3 separate regions of the Homo sapiens genome follow, and all the other regions are linked to region 3. The links come from fine-mapping of genetic effects on gene expression. A gene starts in region 3. Each other region holds a variant in brackets. All regions are shown on one strand. Distances are between the middles of the regions.

Region 1 (4,240 bases), 120 kb after region 3:
ATTTATTGCCTAGGCATGTGCTTCTTTTGGCTTCTCCAATTACTGTTCTCTATTAATGAAAATTAGTTTGTCTGACTTGCTGGCTGAAATCTTAGACCCTGAGGAAATAAAAAATAGGACAGGTAAATTTTATGGCAGTAGAAGGGAAAGTAACAGGCTCTGTGGGACAGCAGAAGAGCACTGAGCCAGAAACAGCAAGATGAGGTTAATGAGGAGTATAATGCAGGTAGTTGTCACCAGAGAAAAGTTTTGTTTAGGCCTAGCCTTGTGCCTCATCTAAAATATGGTGGCATCGTGCTCTTTCATGTTACTTAAATTTTTCTTTAATTTATTTAACAAATATTCGTTAGATTTCTTCTTGCTGGGCACAATCAAGAATACAATGAAAAATCAGATAAGGGGATAAAAATAAAAATAAAAAATAGAGGCCAGGTGCCATGGCTCATGCCTGTAATCCCAATACTTTGAGAGGCCAAGGCAGGTGAATCACCTGAGGTCAGGAGTTCGAGGACCCAGCCCAGCCAACATGGTGAAACCCTGTCTCTACTAAAAATACAAAATTAGCCAGTGTGGTGGCGGGCCTGGGTGACAAGAGCAAAAGTCTCTCAAAAAACAAAAACAAGAAAAACTGTGCAGTAACTGCACAGACAAAAATTCAAAGCTATATTCAATGACAAAACAGAACACATAGGTAAACAATAGTAATCATGAAAGGGTGACAAGTACAGCTGCTACAGACATTTGCTAGAACAGTTTCAGTGAACTGGTGGAAATGGAAGCCCAATTCAAGTGGTTTGAAGAGCAAATGGGAGTTGAGGAAGTAGAGAGGAGAGATTTGGTGTACATTTCAAGAAGCTCATTTGTGAGGAAGCTCAGCAGTTTAAAGGAGACACAGGTTCCAACGAATGTTTTATGAAGCTGACTTTTGCTTTATTTGTTTTAAAATGAGGGTGCTGTGGGCTGTAGGGAGGAATCCAGGAGAGAAAGAGAAATGGAAAATATAGAAGATAAATGAAACATTAATGGCACAAATTCCCTGAGGAAGCAGAAGGGGATAAAACTATGAACAATAACGGGGAATGTTAACCTTGAACAGAAGGGGCATTTCGAAGGGGCATTTCCTCTACGCTAGAGGGAAGGGTTTTTGTTCAGAAACTTGTGTGAGATAAGGATAGATTCAGCTGTAAACAGCCTTATAAATGTAGGGCCTGGAGGGTAAGGAAATTCCTTCCCATCCACACCAAGGCCTCAATTTTCTAAGTGAACTGGGAGATTAGGTCATCTTTTGAGAAGGAGCAAGGTGATGGTCATAAAGGAAGATGGTGGTTAAAGTTTAGAATCGTGACTGAAGGAATGAGAGAAGCGTTTTCTAACTTAAATTTGATATTTAAAAATTTGTATTGTTATCAATCCACAGGTGTAATTTTCCCCAGCTGTACTTAGAATGCAGTAGCAGAGAAATCAGTTTGACTGATCCAACATTAGGAGTTCATGAATTATGTATGTAAGGACAAGAGAGAACCAGTGCATGAACAGTTTGACTATGGGACCTGGGCTCTTCTAGATAGACTCAGAGAAAATGAAGATATCTAGAACTTGAGCTGGCTGTGGTGCTAAAAGAGGGGTGTGGAGAGTATGAGGGGTAAACAGATGGAGGGATAGGAGATTTGTATAGGTTGTGGATTACTGGACTTTTAAGATTTCAGAGACGACAGCATCTTTGGAGAACCCATTGCACCTTCCCTGCTATATGACCTAGGGTGAGTTACTGAAATATTTTGGATCCTCTGTTTCTTATATGAAAAATGGGAAGCCAAGAGAATGCAACCACCAAATTGCTTGTCCTGGAGACTGTGGACTCTGAGAGAATGAACAACCTCTACTGGAGACAGTGGCAAATAAACGCTTTCCTTGAGCTTTCTTTGGGCTAAATTGTTGAAACTTCTCTTGGACCCTCCAGTAAGTTCATTCTTGAGCTAT[T/G]GCTTCTAGAAATCTAAAGCATCCTTAAGCAATAGGGTCATAAATGCAGTTACTTACTATAGTTACTTATGTGCCAAACATAAGTCTTCTAAGTATCAAGAATGACCTCGCTTGAATCACAATTCAAATATAGATAGAATTGTTGGTGTTCCATAGCCTGCTGATATCAGAACCCTGGACAATGGGTTTAATCAAGCAACAGTTTGTGGGTGGATGGGTCCTTCTGTCAACATACCACAGTAGGGATTGTTGTTTTATCACTGAAACTTTCCTATTAAACTTATAACAATTTTGACAAAAATTATTCATCTAATTAACTGTATAGATAAATATATTCTCTCTGGTATCTTTTGAGATTTGGAAACAAAACTGAATTTCCTAACTCACCATCAATTCAACTATTTTTCTAGTATATTTATTGAATATAGCCGATACTAGAGATTATTAATATATAATTGTAATTCATAAAAACAGTACAGTTCACCAAATGTTCATCAGCATATGAATTGATAAAATATGCTATATATACACAATGGAATATTATTCAGCCTTAAAAAGGAAGGAAATTCTGACATATGCTACAATATGGATGAACCTTGAGGACATTATGCTAGGTAAAATAAGCCAGTCACAAAAAAAGACAAATACTATATGTATGATTTCACTTATTCAAAGTACCTAGAGCAACCAGGCGTGGTGGCTCACGCCTGTAATCCCAGCTTCTTGGGAGGCTGAGGCAGGAGAATCGCTTGAACCTGGGAGGCGGAGGTTGCAGTGAGCTGAGACTGTGCCATTGCACTCCAGCCTGGGCAACAAGAGCGAAACCCTGTCTCAAAAAGCACAAAGTACATAAAGCAATAAAAAATATAGAGACAGAAAGTAGAATGGTGGTTGCCAAGGGTTAGGGGGAACAGGGAGAATGGAGACTTATTGTTTAATGAATATAGTGTTTCAGTTTTGCAAAGTGAAAAGAATTCTGGAGTTGGATGGTGGTCATGATTGCACAACAATATTGATGTGCTTAATACCATTGAACTGTATATGGTACTTAAAAATGGCTAAGATACTGTAGTACATTTGTATTATGTGTATTTTACCACAATTAAAAAAAATGGAAAAAAAACCCACAGTGAAGTGTTTAATTTTTCTTTCACATTGCCTTTTCTCTTAATTTGGCTTTGCCCAGGTTCTCTTGAGAATCCCGAACCTTTTATTAGGCCAAATGATCTTGATTGTATTGAATCCAATGATCACTTTAGCTTGAGCTGGGCTCTACAGAACTTGTTAATGCTTGCTTGGCTCTATGTGTTTGGCTTCATGGTATCTGTTGTGTTAAGGATACTATTGACAACTGCATCCTAGAGCCTTGTCAAACCTGTTTGATTTAAATAAATAACTCTTTTGAGAAAAATAGTTATGTACAGATGATCTAGTGAAAACATAAGTATTATTGAATACCACCTACTATCTAAAAAGTTAATTTTCCTATTTAAGGGAATTCAGCCTAAAATTATGGTTTTGTGATTCAGATAGTGATATGTTATTTTGGATACTTCAGAAAGCTTTTTTAATTGTATTTTTTCCTTGTATTAAAAATGTCTGAGAAATTCATATGGTCTTGACTAATTAATCATCTCAATATTTTGAACTCACCAAATTAGTCAGTTTTTTAATTATTCTACTTAAAATCTCTCAGGATAAAATAGAATAGAATATAATTATTTCATAGGGAAATAATAAAGAAAAGAAATATTTCCAATTTGGAATTTTAAGAAAATACACTTTTTTTTTTTAGCAGTTATCCTTTTAGCACTAAAGGACACTAGCAGATTATTATAAGAAATCTTCTTTGGCAGATGAAGTTAGAAATGTCAAGTTGATCACTTCTGCTTTTGTGCCATTGATTATCTTATTTACTTATTTATTTATTTTTTGAGATGGAGTCTCACTCTGTTGCCTAGGTTGGAGTGCAGCGGCCTGATCTCAGCTCAGTGTAGCCTCTGCCTTCTAGGTTCAACCGATTCTCCTGCCTCAGCCTCTCAAGTAGCTGGGACTACAGGTGTGCACTACCATGCCCAGCTAATTTTTTGTAGTTTTAGTAGAGACGGGATGTCACCACGTTGGCCAGGCTGGTCTCAAACTCCTAACGTCAGGTGATCCACCCACCTCAGCCTCCCAAAGTGCTGGGATTACAGGTGTGAGCCACTGTGCCCGGCTTTACCTTTTATATTTCTGCATGGTATTATAATTATTTATTACC
Region 2 (4,240 bases), 27 kb before region 3:
AGACAGGGCCTTGGTCTATTGCTCAGGCTGGATTGCAGTGGTGCAATCATAGCTCACTGTAACCCCAGACTTCCTCCTGCTCCTGCCTCCAAGTAGCTATAACTACAGGAGTGTGCCACCATGCCCATCTAATTTTTAAATTTTTTATAGAGATGGGCTCTCCCTATGTTGCCCAGGCTGGTCTCAAACCCTGGCCTCAAGTGATCCTCCTGCATTGGCCTCCCAGAGCACTGGGATTACAGGTGTGAGCCACCATGTCCTGTCTACTTTGTTCTTTTAATAGTCCATTGTTTGAATGTGTGCTCTCATTATTTATTTAAACTAGTCTCCTTTTTTTTTTTTTTTTTTTTGAGACAGGGTCTCGCTGTATTTCTCAGGCTGGAGTGCAGTGGCGTGATCTCGGCTCACTGCAACCTCTGCCTCCTGAGGTCAAAGTATCCTCCCACTTCAGCCTCCTGATTAGCTGAGACTACAGGTGTGTGCCAACACACCCAGCTAATCTTTGTATTTCTTTTTAGAGTCGGAGTTTCACCCTGTTGCTCAGGCTGGTTTCAAACTCCTGGGCTCAAGCGATCCACCTGTCTCAGCCTCCCAAAGTGCTAGGATTACAGGTGTGAGTCCAGCCAAATTGGTCTCCAAATTGATGTACATTGGGGCTGTTTCTAATTTTTGATATTTGAGTTAGATTTTTTAAAATTAGCTTTTAAATAAGGGAAGAGACACAAAATAATGAAGGAAGAATTCTAGGTGGTGAAAAAGATTTATACATAAATAGGGACCACTAGTGTCTTTGTGTCTGACGGACTACTCTTGACTCGCCTAGGCCATAGGATGAACATATTTATGAGGAGGGAGGTGGGAGAGTAGTGGGTGTTTCTGCAAACCCTTGAGTCTATGTGTAGAATTGGGATGTGACTTAAGAACTGGGCATTTCTAACAGGGTCAGAGTGAAGCTGGCTATAGCCACTTCTTCTCCAATTAAAGATCTTTCAGGGGAGCAGGCTGCCACAGCTGTGAACATTGATCATACTCCGCTCCAGTAAAAATGCCTTCCTGCCCGTGCACAGACGTCACCCTGTTGTATCCTAAATCCACCTGTTGTCATAGTTGTTTCTCTGGGAACCCCAGCCATAGTAAGAAATATGAAGTACTGGCCGGGCGCGGTGGCTTATGCCTGTAATCCCAGAATGTTGGGAGGCCGAGGCAGGTGGATCACAAGGTCAGGAGTTTGAGACCAGCCTGGCCAACTTGGTGAAACGCTGTCTCTACTAAAAATACAAAAATTAGCCGGGCACGGTGGCATGCACCTATAAACCCAGCTACTTGGGAGGCTGAGGCAGGAGAATTGCTGGAACCAGGGAGGTGGAGGTTACAGTGAACTGAGATTGTGCCACTACACTCCAGCCTGGGTGACAGAGTGAGACTCCGTCTAACAAAAAAAAAAAAAAAAAGAGAAAAGAAGTATTTGTGAAAGAAAATGTTTGCTGGCTTGGGTAGAAAGTTGTGTCAGGGAGGAATGAGAAATGGGCCATTTGTTTAAGGCCACCCCCGACTAGCTCTTCCTTTTCTTTTTTTTTTTTTTTTTTTTTTTTGAGACGGAGTTTCATTCTTGTTGCCCAGGCTGGAGTGCAACGGTCTGATCTCGGCTCACAGCAACCACTGCCTCCTGGGTTCAAATGATTCTCCTGCCTCAGCCTCCCGAGTTACAGGCATGCAACACCACGCCCAGATAATTTTTTCTTTTTTTGTATTTTTAGTAGAGATGGGGTTTCTCCATGTTGGTCAGGCTGGTCTCAAGCTCCTGACTTCAGGTGATCCACCTGCCTCAGCCTCCCAAAGTGTTGGGATTACAGGTGTGAGCCACGCGCCCGGCCAGCTCTTCCTTTTCATGTAAGCATGCTCTTAACTTTTCTGCTGGAGTTGGAGAAATTTGTTTTGATGCAGCCATCTGCCAGTTGCATAATCTTGGGTATGTTTCAACATCTCCAAGCTTCAGTTCCCCAT[C/T]AGTCAAATGGGCATCATAATTCCCACTTGGCACAGTGTTGGGAAGATTTATTGAGCCAATGTATGTGAAAGGGCCTATGTTTCATTTTACTTTTTTGCAAGGCCTTGTCACAATGGAGTTCCTAAGGCAATGTGTAATCCAACCCAAGATAATAGATACCAAAATGTTCTATTCTTTCCTGGGATGTGACTGCCAATGTTAGCCTCCCATACTCTCAGCCTGTGTGCTTTACTGAAACTGTCTCTGAAAGCTCATCACCTTCAGGTAATTCATACAAGATTTTTTTACATTTGTATAGTACTTTATAGCTGTCACAGAGACCTTAGCAACAATCATCTAATTTGAACCCCCTAGCAAACCTTCTGGGGCAAGGCACATTTTATCACCATGTTACATATAACATAAACGAGGCTCAGAGAGAATGATATAAAGAAACTGAGGGCCGGGCACAGTGGCTCACACCTGTAATCCCAGCATTTTGGGAGGCCAAGGTGGGAGGATCACTTGAGGTCAGGAGTTCAAGACCATCCTGGCCAACATGGTGAAACCCCGTCTCTACCAAAAATATGAAAGTTAGTCAGGTGTGGTGGCACACGCATGTAATCCCAGCTACTCATGAGGCTGAGGCATGAGAATTCCTTGAGCCCAGGAGGCGGAGACTGCAGTGAGCTGAGATCGCACCACTGCACTCCAGCCTGGGCGAGAGTGAGACCTTGTCTCAAAAAAAAAAAAAGATCCAGGTGCCATGTCTCATGTCTGTAATCCCAGCACTTTGGGAGGCTGAGATGGGTGGATCACCTGAGGTCAGAAGTTCGAGAGCAGCCTGGCCAACATGGTGAAACCCCGTCTCTAGTAAAAATACAAAAATTAGCCGGGCATGGTGGCAGGTGCCTGTAATCCCAGCTACTCAGGAGGCTGAGGCAGAAAAATCGCTTCAACCTAGGAGGTGGAGGTTGCAGTGAGCCGAGATCGTGCCATTGCACTCTGGCCTGGGCAACGGAGTAAGACTCTTGTCTACAAAAAAAAAAAAAGAAAAAAAAAGAAACTGAAGCTCAAAGAAGACAAATAATAAACAGCAGAGACCAGGAGTAGATTACTTCTAGACTACTTCAAGACTAAAGAGATGAGAGGTACCTTCCCTGACCTCAATCTGCCTAGGTTTAGAATTCTTGAGTCTGTTTCCCCAATCATGTTTTGCATCCTAGTAAAATGCATGCCACTTCTAAAATAATTTTTCTGTTGAAATAATAACATCAGCAGGCCGGGCGCGGTGGGTCACACCTGTAATCTCAGCACTTTGGGAGGCCGAGGTAGGTGGATCACCTGAGGCCAGGAGTTCGAGGCCAGTCTGGACAACATGGCGAAACCCTGTCTCTACTAAAAACACACAAATTAGCTGGGTATGGTGGTGGGTGCCTGTAGTTCCAGCTACTTGGGAGGCTGAGGCAGGATAATCATTTCAGCCTGGGAGGCAGAGGTTGCAGTGAGCTGAGATGGCACCACGGCACTCCAGCCTGGGTGACAGAGTGAGACTCCGTCTCAAAACAGCAACAACAAAAAGAAATAATAACATCAGCAAAATACTTCATCGTTTGTAAAACACCTTAAAATTGATGGATTCATTTGATTCTTACAGTAGCCTCCTGGGTAAGTAGAGCAAACATGAGTTATTCTGTTTTTCAGATGAGGAAATAGATGTGAGAATTGAGACCTGCCCAATGTCAAACAACCAAGGAGCAGAGCTGGAACGGGAAACTGACTTTCTGGGCAGCAACTTCAATGCCTTCTTATAGGTTCATTATTGTTGTTATACTTTTATTATGCTTCTATTGTGCTGTGTAATTTTTTTTTTTTTTGAGATGGAGTCTCGCTGTCGCCCAGGCTGGAGTGCAGTGCCACGATCTCGGCTCACTGCAGGCTCTGTCCCCCGGGGTTTACGCCATTCTCCTGCCTCAGCCTCCCGAGTAGCTGGGACTACAGGTGCCCGCCACCTCTCCCGGCTAATTTTTTGTATTTTTAGTAGAGACAGGGTTTCACCGTGTTAGCCAGGATGGTCTCGATCTCCTGACCTCGTGATCCGCCCACCTCGGGTAATTTTTTTTAAAAATTCAAATTAGTTAACCTCTTGTAGACATTCATTAAAATACATTTGTTGAGCACCTGTGTAAACTGCTCACCATCTAGTTGGGAGAAAGGTAAATAAACAGTTACAAAAACAAAACATACTTTGCAATT
Region 3 (4,240 bases):
ATTTCTCCACATTAGTACACGTTATTGATCCCAAGACTTAGGGAAAAAAGGGAGATGGGTCTGGATTCAATTATCATAGCTCAGGTCTTGACACAGTGTAGACTGTGGTTTTCATGGTTAACTACACAGCCAAAGCTATCCAAAGACATACAGGGGTTCTTAACTCCATTTCTCTCCCTTCTGATACAAATGGAGGGGTGGGCAGGAAGTGGGTAGAAAATGGGTTCCTTGCCTTTTTTAAATGGGGTGGGGGTGGGGAACAGAGAGCATACTGGTTAGGGACACTGGCTTCAACGAAAATAACTGCCACTCACACACCCGAGGTCACAGGGGCCTGACGGCGGGGTGCGTGTTTTCTGTGATTCAGGGCGGATGCGCCACGGACAGGACCTGTGCACGCTCCTGCCACAGACAGGAAAGGGGAGGCTGGCTGGGTTAAGGTGGGGGGACAGGAAGGGGTGGCGAATAGGCTAAACTGTTTCAGCAGAAATAGAAAAGAAATCCTATATGCAGGAGGCCAGGTTAGGGTGGGAGGCAGCAAGGGACACTTAGAACTTCTGGGGCATCTTGGGAGGGGCTTATCGTTGTTAGAAAGGTATTTGCAAACAAAAAAACACTGAGTAAGCGGCCAACTCAACTTCTAATTCTCACTCTGGTCTTCTCATTAAAGGGTGGCCTTTCTCTGCAGATGAGATGGGGGTAGAGAGGAGACCACTGAACTTGCCTTTGGAACAAAACGGGGGTGGAGTAAGCTAGGCGAGCCCTTGGGGAGTGACAAAGTGGGGGCTATGAGAAAACGGAGAGTTAGAGGCAAGAGGCACCCACCTCCTTCTCAGAGATGTAGAGCTGGTCCCCTTTCAGCACCACATAGCGGTTTTTCCAAATCTCCCTGAAAATCCCTTTCCCGCAGAATTTCCGGACCCAGCCGACCTTCTCGGGCGGTGCAGGCTGCTGGTTTCCATCCTGAGGTCCCTGCCCCAGGACAAGATGAGAAGCGGGCGGTTAGGAGATTCCAGCCGGCGCTTCCTCTCCGTCCGTCTCTCACGACCGCCTCGGCGGCCCAGTCTCCTCCGAAGGCTGCGGCCGGGGGGCGGGGGGCCGCCCCAGGTTCGCTCCCACTTCGGAAAGGTTTTCACTCCGAGGAACTCCCCCCGCTCCCCTCCCCCGCTCCCGAATAAACAACCGGGGCTGCAAGTGGCAGGGGCGCCGGCCGGGCGCGGAGAGGCTCCCAGGTTCCCTCCAGGCCCTGCGCCCCCGCCGCCCCGTCCTCGCCGCGCGGGGACTAACGGCGTTTCTCTGGTTTTCTCTCCCATTGTCTCCTCGCCACGGCGGAGCGCGAGGCAAACGCTCGCCCGGCGCCCGGGGGCGGGGGAGGTGCGGGTCGTGGGGAAACTCAGCCAAGTTGAAGCCCCCCGAGGCGAGTAAACAAACAAAAGCCCCCGCGGGCGCCTGGCGGGGCCGAGGCCGAGGGGACCGGGCCGCCGGGGCGGGGGCGCGGCCGGGCCGTGGGTCTCCCAGGCCGCCGCGGCGCCGACGGAGCGGGGGTCGTCAGAGCGCGGAGGCGGCGGCGGCCGCAGGGCGGGCAAGCGCACTCACCCGCTTGGCGGAATTGTTCTTCTTCATCATTCCCAGCGGGCGCGGGCGCGGGGCGGCGAGCCGAGGGGCGGCCCCGCGTCGGGGCCTCGGCGGCACCGCGGGGGCTCCTTCCCCGCGGGAGGGCGTCGGAGCTGCCCCGGCGCCGCCGCTCCTCCCTCGCGCCCTCCCGCTCCCGGACTCTCCCCTTCTTTGTAGCTCCGGTTTCACTCAAGGCCGGCCTCCCTCGCATTCGCACTCGCACACACACGCACGCCCGCTCCCCGCCCCTTGGCGCCCTCCATCCCGGCGCCCACGCGGCCCGGGTCCCCGAGCGCACCCCCGCCACCCGCCCGCCCGGCCCAGCGCGGCCGCTCCCCCGGCCCGGTGCGCTGTGGGCGGCCCAGTCCGCACCCCGCAGCTCCATCCGCGGGCCGCTGACGTTGCGAGTTCAGAATAAAGGGCGAATCGCGGAGCCGCAGCTCGGGCGCTCCCCCCGCCCCCCCGCCTTTGTTTCTGACTCACGGAGGGGGAAGAAGGCGGCTTCGAAGCGGCTGGAGACCGCTCCCCAGGGGGCAGGGACCCTCGCTCCGGCGGCGGCTCGGGCGACACGCGGAGCCCGAGAGACCCGGCCGCCGGCCGCCCCGGGGCCCAGTGGGCGGGCGCGGTGGATAATGGAGAGACGTGCGGATTCGTGAAGACTGGAGATCGCCAGCCTCTACAGCATCGCCTTACCCGACCAAAAACAAAAACGAGAGCGGGAACCGGGAGGGCGCGCCACCCACAACCCGCATCAGGAATTCACGCTCCTAGGTGCTAGGGTGGCCTGGGCAGGTCAGATGCTGGGGGAAAGTTTTATGCTCCGGAGGGGATCGACGTGTTGGGGGATGGGGTGGGACAGAAGTTGCTATTAATACACGTTTCTTCCAGCGTACAATGCCTCAGGCCTTATTGTAGCTTCAGGAGAATAATCCTAAGGATGAGGCGGATTTTATGATCTCCATCTCACAGGGAGAAAACGGAGACTCAGAATAGCTGAGGGATTTGCAGACACAGTGTCGATGCTGGCTTTTCAGACACAGTGTCAATGCTGGCAGGAATAGAACTCTGTCTCCAAACCATTATCCTTTCTACCAAGTGGCTTTCAATATAAGTTCCAGGTGAGGCTTAAACTTCCTGCCACCTGGGTATCTTTTCCCGCTATACTGATAGGTAAAAACCCCACCCTCTCTACAGCGCTGGAGCCCAGTGGAGGGAAGGGCTGAACGCCCAGAGAATGCCCTGACTAGAGAAGCCTCTGCTGATCCCTCCTACAGCAGATCTGCCTCAGAGCCTCCAGGACACATCTTAGTAACTTCATGTCTTTTTAATATATATACGTGTGATGGAAAAGGGGAGTGAGAAACCCCGCGCTTGGGTACTGGTTTCATCACCACTCTGGGCTTTGGTCAAGTCACTGAATTTCTTTAGGCCCGCGTCCCTCCACGTATTAAGTGGTGAGGGATGAACTGCCATTTTTATCAACAAGGAAAGCTAGGGGAAGATATGAGATGACCTCTGAGAGTCCTTTGAAGATATGTGTTGTCTTCCAGGGCTAATTTTGAAATCATAATAAGCTAATAAACACATTGCCTGGCATATGGCAAGCATGCAGTAACCACAAAATGAATAAAAATCCCTGGCACTGAGGAGCAGGGAAAAGGAAAAATCATTTTTCCAGAGATGTCTCAAGATAAAAGTGTTGGCTAGATTTGTGGTTTGAATAGTGGAGGCTCTTTTGACTTTTTCTGGTGTCTGTCAAATGAAGGAGGGGCTCCCTCTCTTTTCCAGTTCCACCTTTCCTCCTAATCCAATGATATTCCTCTCAACTTCTTTCCATTCACCATACCAATTAATTCCACGATTTTAGACTGACACAGAACTTTATCCTTTCAAAATGCTCTTATATGTCATTTCTTTACACTTTTAATGCCACCTTGTAAGGTATATAGAGTATTAATATTTCCATTTGGAAAATGAGGAAACAGGGCATGCCAGATAAACTGACTTGCCCAAGTTTATACATCAAGTTACTGGCTAAATGGATTAGAATCCAGGCTTCCTGACTGCAGTCTCCTCTTCAGATTTTGTAACCCCCTCCCATGGGCATGAGTGTGCACACACCACGTTCCCCAAACCATCTTGTCCCCTTTCCACCGTCTCTATTTTCTAACCCCCTGTTTAAAGAGCGATGAAAAAATAATGAGCAAATCCAGGGTGTCTTCATATGTGAGGATGCAAAATGTCCAAATGTACTGGTGAGCAAATAGCCTGCACGATTTTTTGAGGGCTTGCTGGACAAACACACAGGAGTGGTTTAGAGTTATCATTTAAATAGATTCTGATTTATGGGAAAAAAGTAATTCATCATTTGCCCCATCTTCCTCCTTTCCCAGTAGTTTCTATCAGTCAACAAATATTGGGCTGCGTGTGGTGGCTCACGCCTGTAATCCCAGCACTTTGGGAGGCCGAGGCGGGTGGATCATTTGAGGTCAGAAGTTCAAGACCAGCCTGACCAACATGTCGAAACCCCATATCTACTAAATACAAAAAAAAATTAGCTGGGTGTGGTGGCACACGCCTGTAATCCCAGCTACTTGGGAGGCTGAGGCAGGAGAATAGCTCGAAC

The links. PIP is the estimated chance that this variant, and not a neighbour inherited with it, causes the effect. A credible set is the group of variants that fine-mapping cannot tell apart.
Region 1: its variant is the best candidate, but not a certain one, in a credible set for the expression of PLEKHO1 in whole blood (INTERVAL, PIP 0.71).
Region 2: its variant is the best candidate, but not a certain one, in a credible set for the expression of PLEKHO1 in whole blood (INTERVAL, PIP 0.83).

The regions. Positions count from the first base shown.
Region 1 is chr1:150,027,261-150,031,500 of GRCh38, reverse strand. All of the region lies in intron 1 of LOC124904413 (a long non-coding RNA gene), which reads right to left. It also overlaps a transcript of OTUD7B not described here. Among named protein-coding and RNA genes, the nearest start is that of OTUD7B, 19 kb to the right of the region's middle. The variant T/G (reference allele first, on the strand shown) is at 1,981.
Region 2 is chr1:150,174,555-150,178,794 of GRCh38, reverse strand. All of the region lies in intron 3 of LINC02988 (long intergenic non-protein coding RNA 2988), which reads right to left. Among named protein-coding and RNA genes, the nearest start is that of LINC02988, 16 kb to the right of the region's middle. The variant C/T (reference allele first, on the strand shown) is at 2,005.
Region 3 is chr1:150,147,644-150,151,883 of GRCh38, reverse strand. PLEKHO1 (pleckstrin homology domain containing O1) reads right to left here and starts at 1,968. Exons shown (of 6, transcript NM_016274.6): 1 at 1,597-1,968; 2 at 826-972. The coding sequence starts at 1,626. RefSeq lists silencers at 1,661-1,740, 1,881-2,340 and an enhancer at 1,528-2,028.